3 linked regions of the Homo sapiens genome follow. The gene in region 1 interacts genetically with each later gene. Each region holds a gene or a part of one and is shown in the gene's direction. Other genes may lie near its edges.

Region 1 (3,727 bases):
CACTTGCGACAAGAGGAAAAAAAAACATCTGCTCCATCGGAAGAACGACCAAGGAAAATGGGTTATTTTTTTTCCAGAGGAAATAGATAACGTAACCTTTTAAAGCAAAATCTTTATAAACTGTGTCTGAGAAATTGCACACGTGTGTGTGACATGCTCAAAGGTCAGACAAGGGGTGGTCAGGAAGGGATGTATTTTAGTAGCCACTTGTATCTTTTTCCAAAAACACCTACCCATGTTTGGGGAATGTTAAACAAAATCAAAAAACAACCTTTTGTAGCCGTTGGAAGCTTCATGTCCTTTCTTCTAACTTGTCTTCTCCAGCGGAAGTGACCGTGGTGGCTTCAATAAATTTGGTGGTAAGTGAACAGAGTTTCCAAAATTCCCAACTCCCAGCAATGCTTTGTCTGATTGTTCATTTGCAGATGTCTTAGCGTGTTAATTTAAATGTCAAAGGTTTTGAGGTGTCCAGAACCACCTCCAGAAAGGGGTAGGGTAGAATGCCACCTGTTGCCTGGTGTGTGCTAACCTGGAGCAGGTAGGGGTAAGACTCAATAGTCATCTTTTACCAAATGGGTTTGCCCCAGGTTAATAAGAGGGGTCTAGTAGGCCTTGGACTGGGCCGTTGCCACACCTGGCACTTAGTGACCATCATCATGAGAAACTGGAGAGTGCGTGCTGGAACACGTGGTGCCATCTTGGCTTTAGGATCCTTTTGATCGTTGTGTCCAAGGCTTGTGTGTGTGTGAGTGTGTGGGAGACAACTCCGAATGTTTAATTCTGGAAGAGGGATGTAACATTGCCCTGAGGATGGTGAAGTTGGTATACATTTATAAAGTACGGAATGGTGTCAATGAATGCAATTCTATGTATATGGACTTAACTGAGATGGGCAAATAGAAACTAGCTCTGGGAAGGAACATGTGCACTACTTCAAGAAAGATTGGAAGCATGTGTGGCTCATGGGAAATAACCAGGTCTTAAACAGCACAAACTGAATTCGTGGACCAGGAAGGTCTTAAACAGCACAAACTGAATTCATGGAAAAATGACAAATTTGAGAAGTCTCCCAGTAAGCTGGAACTTTTCTGGTTTGGTTAACAAAAGGTTTCTTGATTTGTTTCAAGATTTAAAGCCAAAGGTGTGGGTTCATGACTTAGGTGTCATTGCGTGTGGGTACAATATTTATATATGGCGAATTCAGATAAACATTGGTCAAAGATGGTCTCTGGAAAAACAAAATAGAGGCTGCATTACGGAAATAAGATTTCTGGTCTGTTCCCTGGGACATGCTTAAAAAATACAATAGCTATTATGTATGGTTTTTATTTTCATGTGGTTTCGGGGAAACAACACGGTTTTAAGGATGGTTTCTAAAGATGAAATTAAAAATTGTTCCACAAGGGTTAAGTGTCTGGTGGTAAAGTTGGGAGAAACTGGATGGATGCACATCGCATGGCTGGTGGCGAGCCCATCTCTCTTCTCTCGGGTGAGAGAACCGGGCCAAGCTGAGTTGGTTTGTTCACTTTAATGGGTCTCCGTTTCCCCTGCCACCTGTGCTGAGGACATTTCCCAGCCTGAGCTGGGGGAGGCAGCATTTGCTGAAGTGTGGAGTTGTCTCTGTGGAGACTCAAGTTACAGATCTTAAGGGGCCTGCCTAGAATTTTCTCCTCTGGGCAGGCGACCCAGGAAAGGGTTTGGAGTGAGGCTGTGAGCACTTACTTGATATTTTACAAGTTTGGATTTGGTGTTAATTTTTTTCCTTGTCCGTTTTTTCCTGTTGACTAACGGCTCATCTTTTCCTTGTTTTTGTTTTTTTTTTGTTCTTTTTTTCCATGTCACTAAAGGCCCTCGGGACCAAGGATCACGTCATGACTCCGGTGAGTTCACACGTGGTGGCATGAAAAGAGTGGCTAAAGTGGTATCAAGACTGCCTGGATGTTCTTTGAAACTATTATAAAAAGGAAACTGAAAAAAATGGGGATAGAGAAGGAAGGGAGTTAGGTGTGTCCTTAGTTAGCAGTGAGAAGTATTTGTTACGAAGTATTTCTCAGAAATACCTGGCTTGTGGGTTCCACCCCCAGTGATTTAGGTCTGAGAGGACCCTGAAAATCTACCTTTCTAACAAGTCCCCAGTGATGCTGATGCGTCTGGACCACACTCAGATGGTTTACAGCAGTGGTTCTTTCAAAATGTGGATCATGTCCAAGTTGGTGAACAAAACTAGTGAAAGACCTGACCACATGAAGTAAAGCATTGAACTCCTGTTTAGGTTGTATTGATGTTTGTGTACTAGATTTGAATGTAAAATGGGTTTCTTATTTAATTCGGGGACCTTCAACTGAAAGTTGATAAATACTGATGGACTTTTCTGTGTGGTCTTGTTGGGCATTTCACTCCTGAGCCCTGGTTTCCATACTGTATACTGGGTGTTAACATGTTTCAAAGGATAATTGTCAAACTGAATCTGAAATTTATCAGCATGGCTGGCATATAGGGACTCAAAAGGGATGTGGATTTCTTTTTAGTTGTCTTCCATAAACCAAATGATACCAGTTGCTTGATGGATACTAGGTGCTTTAGGTTTTTTCCTGTGTTTTTTATTTTACCTTTTCACATTTGCATTTTCTCTGTTCAACAAGCAGAACAGGATAATTCAGACAACAACACCATCTTTGTGCAAGGCCTGGGTGAGAATGTTACAATTGAGTCTGTGGCTGATTACTTCAAGCAGATTGGTATTATTAAGGTACTTGTGGAGAGGAGTGGGAGCTTTCTGTCAGTGTTGTAGGCTTGTGGATTTCACACATTAGTAAAAGCAAGTCTTTAATGGTTGCCAGCAGTAAAAACAAGTCTTAGTGGTTGTTGCCAGCTTAATTTGTTGAGGAAAGAGCCTTAGTTACTGTTTTCTAAAAGAGAAGTTCTATCTTAACACAAAAAGTATAACTTATCAGAGTACCCTAAACTCTTGAGATTTGTACTCTATAGTAACTTTTAGTTTTATCTTTCAATATTGGAGTGAGAGACAGTTTTCTTTAATGGAGGTTTACATGTGAGGTAGGAAGAAGTAACTGGGAAGAGGGGAGCTGAAGTTTGGGAATTATAAACCTCATGTTCTAGAGGAAGAAGATGGAAAGGGAGTACTGTAGCCTTTAAAATTGATGTTACCTCATTTTGCTTTCTTCAGACAAACAAGAAAACGGGACAGCCCATGATTAATTTGTACACAGACAGGGAAACTGGCAAGCTGAAGGGAGAGGCAACGGTCTCTTTTGATGACCCACCTTCAGCTAAAGCAGCTATTGACTGGTTTGATGGTATGTATGAGAAGGCTGGCAGAGGTGGGGCTGGGGATATAGGGCAGCAAGCCTTAGGAAACAAGCCATAGTTTGAGGGTTCTTTTGAGTCTTCCAACACTTACTTTAGCTGCGGTTTCAGGTAGTCTCATTTTTGCTTATGTGTCAGCAGATTATAAACCATTTGAGAAAGGCACGCTTCTCTTGTATTTTCGGATTAATGTGTCTTGCATTTAAAGTCTGTTGATGATTTTTTGTTTCTCTAGGTAAAGAATTCTCCGGAAATCCTATCAAGGTCTCATTTGCTACTCGCCGGGCAGACTTTAATCGGGGTGGTGGCAATGGTCGTGGAGGCCGAGGGCGAGGAGGTGAGGAGCTACCTGCTAGTGGTGCAGAGGGGTAATGGGGAGAGTGCAGAAGATGGTAAAGGC
Region 2 (3,727 bases), on another chromosome or scaffold:
GCTCCTGGAAACTCTCATTCTGCTTTTTTAATTTTTATTTTACTGGGGAAGTGGCTATCAGCTGTCAAGTGCCCTGCAGTCACTTTTGCTTAGCGGCTTTATTGAAATAGAATTCACTTGCCACAACATACAATTTACCCATATAAAGTGTACAGTTCGGCGGCTTTTATTTAGTATATTCAGAGTTGTGCAGCCATTACCACAGTAAACTTTAGAACATTTTTGTCACCCCAGAGATAAACCCTGCACCCCTTAGCCCATCCGTCCTACCTCCACAGCCCCTGGCAACCACTCACCTGCTTTCTGTCTCAAGATGTGCCTGTTCTGGGCATTTCACATCAACGGAATCATATCATATATGGTGTTTTGTGTCTGGCTCCTTTCACTCTGCGTGATGTGTGAGAAGTAGCTACAAGGTGAGCTTCGTAGCTGTTCCCTGGCCGAGCATTCAGGAAAATGAACCTGATCGAGGTTCATCCACGCTGTGGTATGTGTCATCATTTCATTCCTTTTTTTTTTTTGAGACAGAGTCTCGCTCTGTTGCCCAGGCTGGGGTGCAGTGGCGTGATCTTGGCTCACTGCAACCTGTGCCTCCCAGGTTCAAGCGATTCTCCTGCCTCAGCCTCCCCAGTAGCTGGGATTACAGGTGCACACCACCATGCCCCGGCTAATTTTTGTATTTTTAGTAGAGACGGGGTTTCACCATGTTGGCCAGATGGTCTTGATTTCCTGACCATGTGGTCCACTTGCCTCGGCCTCCCAAAGTGCTGGGATTACAAGCATGAGCCACCGCACCTGGCCAGCATTTCATTCCTTTTTAAGGCTGAGTAATATTCCATGGGTGGAATGGTCCAGATGGATGGACCATGTTTTGTTTATCTCGTCATCTGTTGATGGACATTTGGGTTGTTTCCACCTCTTGGCTTTTGTGAATAGCACTGCTGTGGCCATGAGTGTACAGGTTTCTGCGTGGATGTGTTTATAGACCTGCTGGGCCGCGTAGTAACCTTGGGTTTAATGGTTTCAGTAACTGCAAGACTGTTTTCCAGTGTGTAGCCACTTTCCATACCAACCCTACCTGAACTGGTTTTGCGCAGTTGGTTTTCCCTTAATGTGTGTTGAAAGACAGTGTGTCCCCACCGGGATGGGAAAGTGGCAGCAGGGGTGACTCCCTGCACTCAGAGCTGGTTCAGATAACACTCCTTTTCTTGTTTATGAAATGAAACTGATATTTATCAAAGCCCTTGAGATCCTGGGATGAAAAGCGCTGACACAGTATTGCCAAGTGTCCTTAAGATACAGGGACAGTTTTCGAGCATCTGACCTTTTCCTGGGCCCTTCTCTGCTGCCACTTCTCCTGCTCCCAGGACAGTGAAGGTAATTTCAGAAGTCCTTTGCATAATAGCTGGTGTTACAAGCCTTTTGGTCTGCCTGGTTGGAATATTTCCTCTTGACTGTAGCTTCTGCCCTGGATCCTCCAAACGGGAACTAGAGTGAAACTCTTAAGAGTTGGAAATACTGCTCAGTATTAAGAAGGAACAAACTATTGATACCTGCAACAACATGGATGTGTCTCATAATAATTACTTTTTTGTATGTGTCATTCATCATATGATTTAATTCATAAAAAAATTCTAGAAATTGCCAGCTAGCCTGCAGCAATAGAAAGCAGACCAGTGGTGGCTGGACAGAAAGGTGGGAAAGGGGAGGCAGGTGACAAAGGGCACAGGAAACTTGGGGGTAATGGACGTTTTTATTATCGTGATTGTAGTGATAGTTTTATGGGTGTTTAAGTACATTGATGTATGTCAGTTTCTAAAATGGCACACTAAACATTTGCAGCTTATGGTATGTCAGTTATGCCTCAATGAAACTGGAAAGAAAAGTCAGGGAGATACCACTATCCACCCATTTTTTTTTTTTTTTTTTTTTGGAGACGGAGTCTCGCTCTGTTGCCTAGGCTGGAGTGCAGTGGCACAATCTTGGCTCACTGCAACCTCCACCTCCTGGGTTCAAGCGATTCTCCTGCCCTAGCCTCTCGAGTAGCTGGGACTACAGGTGTGTGCTACCATGCCCGGCTAATTTTTTGTATTTTTATAGAGGCAGGGTTTCACCATGTTAGTCAGGATGGTCTTGATCTCCTGACCTCGTGTTCCGCCCTCCTCTACCTCCTAAAGTGCTGGGATTACAGCCGTGAGCCACTGCGCCCAGCCTGCCATACTTTTTTTAAAAGGCTGAAAGTGCTACTTGGGTTTTTTGTTTTTGTTTTAAGGCAAAGTCTCATTCTGTCACCCAGGCTGTAGTGCAGTGGCGTTATCATGGGTCACTGCAGCCTCGACCTCCTGGGCTCAAGCGATCCTTCCACCTCAGCCTCCCAAGTAGCTGGGACTACAGGTGTGTGCCACCACGTCTGGCTGATTTTTCTTTTTTTGTAGAGATGGGGTTTTGCCATGTTACCCAGGCTGGTCTTGAACTCCTGGGCTCAAGAGATCCTCTCACCTCAGGCCTCCCAAGTGTTGGAATTACAGAGTGAGCCATTGAGCCTGGCAAAAGTGCTGCCTGGAACTCTCATGCCATACACCTACCTGTGACCTAGCAGAGATGAAGGTGTGTGTACGCAGGGCTGCGCCAAATGCTGACAGCATCTCTTCATGAGAACCCCAAACCGGAAGCAGCCCCAGTGGCCATCAGCAGATGAATGGGTAAACAAAGCAGTGTGTACATCCAGTGGGAAAAATGTGTGCCTATTGGTTTGAGTTGCTTTTCTTAGCTCACCTGAAAGTATGAGGTCTGTGGGTAGGTACAGACCTTTTAGGCAGCAACACGCATGTTTTTGTGCAGGTGCTCTGGGTGACCTTGTAGATAGATGCTGCTTGGTACTGGTCCCACTTTGTTCCTTCATCCTCAGGTCAGGTCTGCACTGCCTGTTCCGTCTCCACTCCTGGTAGCCTGTGGGAGTCACAGCTGAATAGTCATCTCGTACTGGGATTTTACTCTGAGTGCATGAGTTGTTTCCCTAGGAAAAACATGCTGTCTTTCTGGATCGTAAGGGACAACTAGCTAAAGCTCCTAGCCGACCTGTCGTCCAGCCCTCACTCTCCTCCTGCCAGACTTCTCTGTATTGCCTCCACTTCTCTGAGTGTGTAAACCTGGGCTCACTTTTCCTTTTGAAGTGGTAAAATACTCAGGATAGAAAGTTGCTACTTTGTCTTCAAAGCCATTGTCCTGACCTATCCTTGACTGTCCAGGTGAACACACCATCTTCTGCTGAGCCCTGAGATTATGACCAAGGCGGGGTGAGTTCCATACAGTCTTGGGTTCCGAAAAGTGGTGAGTTTAAAATCTGCACATGTAGCTGGGCACGATGGCCCATGCCTGTAATCCCAGTACTTTGGGAGGCTGAGGCAGGCAGATCATTTGAGCTCAGGAGTTTGAGACCAGCCTGGGCAAAATGTCCATGATCGCACCACTGCACTCCAGCCTGGGTGACAGAGTGAGACCTTGTCTTAATAAAAAGAAGAAAATCCAGGCCGGGCTTGGTGGCTCACGCCTGTAATCTCAGCACTTTGAGAGGCAGAGGCAGGTGAATCACCGGAGGTCAGGAGTTCCAGACCAGCTTGACCAACATGGAGAAATCCTGTCTCTACTAAAAATACAAAATTAGCTGGGTATAGTGGCACATGCCTGTAATCCCAGTTACTTGGGAGGCTGAGGCAGGAGAATCGCT
Region 3 (3,500 bases), on another chromosome or scaffold:
ATGGCCTAAATTTAAGCAAATACATTGCAGAAGCTGTAGCTTCCATCGTGGAAGCAAAACTAAAAATCTCTGATGTGAACTGTGCTGTGCACCTCTGCTCTCTCTTTCACCAGCGTTATGCTGACTTTGCCCCATCACTTCTTCAGGTCTGGAAAAAACATTTTGAAGCAAGGAAAGAGGAGAAAACACCTAACATCACCAAGTTAAGAACTGATTTGCGTTTTATTGCAGAATTGACAATAGTTGGGATTTTCACTGACAAGGAAGGTCTTTCCTTAATCTATGAACAGCTAAAAAATATTATTAATGCTGATCGGGAGTCCCACACTCATGTCTCTGTAGTGATTAGTTTCTGTCGACATTGTGGAGATGATATTGCTGGACTTGTACCAAGGAAAGTAAAGAGTGCTGCAGAGAAGTTTAATTTGAGTTTTCCTCCTAGTGAGATAATTAGTCCAGAGAAACAACAGCCCTTCCAGAATCTTTTAAAAGAGTACTTTACGTCTTTGACCAAACACCTGAAAAGGGACCACAGGGAGCTCCAGAATACTGAGAGACAAAACAGGTGATTTTCAAATGTTTCTCAGAGTTGAGAATTTATTTTGGAGCTCATACTTAAAAATGTTTAAAGTCTTCATGCCACTGAAAGAACTTATGGAAAAGGGCTCCTTACAGGTGATTTCTTAACATTCCAGGAAAATTTCAAAGTAGAACAGTCTGAGTACTCATGTTTTAATGTGAGTCTACGATAGATTTTGTTTCTGATTTTAAAAAAATCTGCCAAGTAGATGGTGATTTTTGCTTTGTGGATGTGTATTCTTCCTGTGATTTTAAATACTCCTTAATAATCAAGGGGTAAAATTTCCTTTTCTGTCACTTAAACTTACCTGCTAATATTTTTCTGTGTGCTTTAACGTTCTCTCTATAACAGGTTTGCTTTCATTGTTTTGTATTTTAAGTTCTTTATGTCACTGTTGCTCTTCTTAAGAAAATGAGTCATTAATTACCAGTGGTATTTCAGATTAGAGTTTTGGGAAATAATGCACAAAATTAGCTGTGAAAAAATTTCTTAAATGCAACTACAAAACTCATTTGTAGGAGTCTTCTTCCTGGGGGCATTCATTTAAAATTCTAAAGGAGGAATGTACTGTGCCTGTGGTAATTGGTGAAAAGACCTGACTTTGGGGCCAATTTTGGTTGTTAAAAGGTATGGTAGACTACTGTGTAGTATTTGTACCTGAGGAGCAACAAGAAGCTAGAAGTTGATGGAGTTGCTAGGCATTAGGTCAATTTCTATGGAGGATGGATTTGGAGGGGGGCTGAGGGAGTGTAGCAAAGAGGTAATAGCCATAGCACGTGGCTGAGTATTAAACTATTTTAATATTTCTACAACTATTTATATTGCATGGTTGAGAATCTGAAATTACTGTTGATCAGAAATTTGTATAGGAGGAGATCCTTTTCTAGTTTCATAAGTCTGTGGTAGGGGAGGAGTGGTTTAAGTAGTTACCACTAGAAGATGATTGACCAGAAGATTGAACAGGAGTAGTGTATGCCAGTAGTACAGTTAGGGCAGGGTCAAGGTAGAGACTGTGGTTAAATCTTTGTGGCTGAAGGTCACTCAGAGGTGAGAATTTAAGACGGCAAAGGTGTTATCAATAGTTCTTTTAGGAAAAAGGAAAAGGCTTATCCTTGTTTTGTGTTTTGATTTGCGAGGACTGGTTTAAACTTTGAAGAGGCAACCTGAGAGTGTACTTGTACCATCAGTAATGGACTAAAAAGGATTATGGTGGTGCTTTATTCATACTTCTCACTTACTTAGGGCTTAATTATGATTTCCATATGCTTTGTCAATTTCATAGTCCTTTGCTCGTACATCCTACCTAATACATCATAACTGATTTGTGAGTATGCTAATAGTATGCTAATGATTGATTAGTTCTTGGCTACTTTGAGGGTGTATGTGTGTGTATTTGCTTTTGATTGGACTCAGAATCTTGGAGAGTGGAGAGATTCTACGATGTTTTAATCCAATCCATTCACCTTTCCAAAGTAGGAATACATTTTTTAGATTATCTAACAGATAAAATTATTTTTCCTCTGAATACTTCCCAAAGGAGCTCAGTTCTCTCGGTGCCATTGCACTGTTGGAAACACTATGGGCTAGGAATTCTTTGTTACATCAGGTGGAAATTTAACTTCCCACAAAATGATTCCCTTTGATTTGGTTCTTTTTTCTGGTATGGATGGAATACAGGTACTTGAAGTAGGAAATCTATGAACTTGTAACCTGTTCACAATTTAATGAAACACAGAAAGTGAGAGTGAGCATTTAGAAATTATTATAGGAATTTTCAGGCTGGAAATGGTGGCTCACACCTGTAATCCCAGCACTTTGGGAGGCCAAGGTGGGTGGATCATCTGAGGTCAGGAGTTTGAGACCAGCCTGGCCAACATGGTGAAACCCCGTCTCTACTAAAAATGCAAAAATTAGCCGGGCATGGTGGCAGGCCCCGGTAATCCCAGCTACTTGTGGGGGACTGAGGCAGGAGAATCACTTGACCCTGGGAGGTGGAGGTTGCAGTGAGCCGAGATTGTGCCATTGCACTCCAGCCTGGAGGACAAGAGCGAGACTTCGTCCTAAAAAAAAAAAAAAAAAAAAAGTTTATAGGAATTTTCAGTGGTCATGGTATTCTTACTATATTTTTACAGAAGTGTCCAGTGGTTGGGGAAGGAAAGGTGGCCCTTTACCACAGATGGTTTGAGGAATACCAGTAGAGGACATATGTGTCCACTTTTATTCCCATGACAGTATCTCAGATATTCAGACTGCCGTGATGTTTCCCTTTTCTCGTCTCCATGTTAAATACCTCCAGTTCTTTCAGTTTGCTCCATGATTTCCAGACACTTCACTACTCTTAGGATACTTGTTTTGGATGCATTCTTTTCTATCTGTGACCTAAAATTGCCTTAGTTTTTATAGCTACCTTGTTGTTCTTTTGGTTTTTGTTAAACTTATTTGCACTGAAGCTTTATTTCTCATATGAACTGCTGACAAGCCACTTCTTCTTCACCTTAAACTAGTGAAATACAATTTTTAAAGCCTAAATGTGTACTTGCATATCTCTGTTAAACTTTATTTAGATGCTTTTTGTATATTATTTTAGCTTTATGAAAGCTTTGGATATTGATTACATGTGTATTATTAATAGTACTGGCAGGGTGCGGTGGCTCACGCCTGTAATGTCAGCACTTTGGGAGGCTGAGGCAGAAGGATCGCTTGAGCCCAGGAGTTTGAGACTAGCCTGGGCAACATGCTGAAACCCCATTGCTACAAAAAATATAAAAATTAGCTGGGTGTGGTGGCATGCGCTTGTAGTCTCAGCTACTTGGGGGCTGAGGTGGGAGGATCAGTTGAGCCTGGAAAGTCGAGACTGCAGTAAGCCATGATCGCACCACTGCACTCTAGCCTGGGCGACAGAGAGAGACCCTGTCTCGAA

What was found.
Region 2: of FUS (region 1) and UPF1, extra expression of one rescues a mutant of the other (dosage rescue), as found in Homo sapiens cells (one study listed by BioGRID).
Region 3: of FUS (region 1) and UPF2, extra expression of one rescues a mutant of the other (dosage rescue), as found in Homo sapiens cells (one study listed by BioGRID).

Annotation. Positions count from the first base shown.
Region 1 is NC_000016.10:31,186,478-31,190,204, forward strand, and holds part of FUS (RNA-binding protein FUS), read left to right. Parts: intron 1-324; coding exon 325-359; intron 360-1,847; coding exon 1,848-1,880; intron 1,881-2,645; coding exon 2,646-2,749; intron 2,750-3,187; coding exon 3,188-3,317; intron 3,318-3,562; coding exon 3,563-3,664; intron 3,665-3,727. UniProt on the Homo sapiens protein: DNA/RNA-binding protein that plays a role in various cellular processes such as transcription regulation, RNA splicing, RNA transport, DNA repair and damage response. Binds to ssRNA containing the consensus sequence 5'-AGGUAA-3'.
Region 2 is NC_000019.10:18,834,839-18,838,565, forward strand, and holds part of UPF1 (regulator of nonsense transcripts 1), read left to right. Parts: intron 1-3,727. UniProt on the Homo sapiens protein: RNA-dependent helicase required for nonsense-mediated decay (NMD) of aberrant mRNAs containing premature stop codons and modulates the expression level of normal mRNAs.
Region 3 is NC_000010.11:12,025,810-12,029,309, reverse strand, and holds part of UPF2 (regulator of nonsense transcripts 2), read left to right. Parts: coding exon 1-565; intron 566-3,500. UniProt on the Homo sapiens protein: Involved in nonsense-mediated decay (NMD) of mRNAs containing premature stop codons by associating with the nuclear exon junction complex (EJC).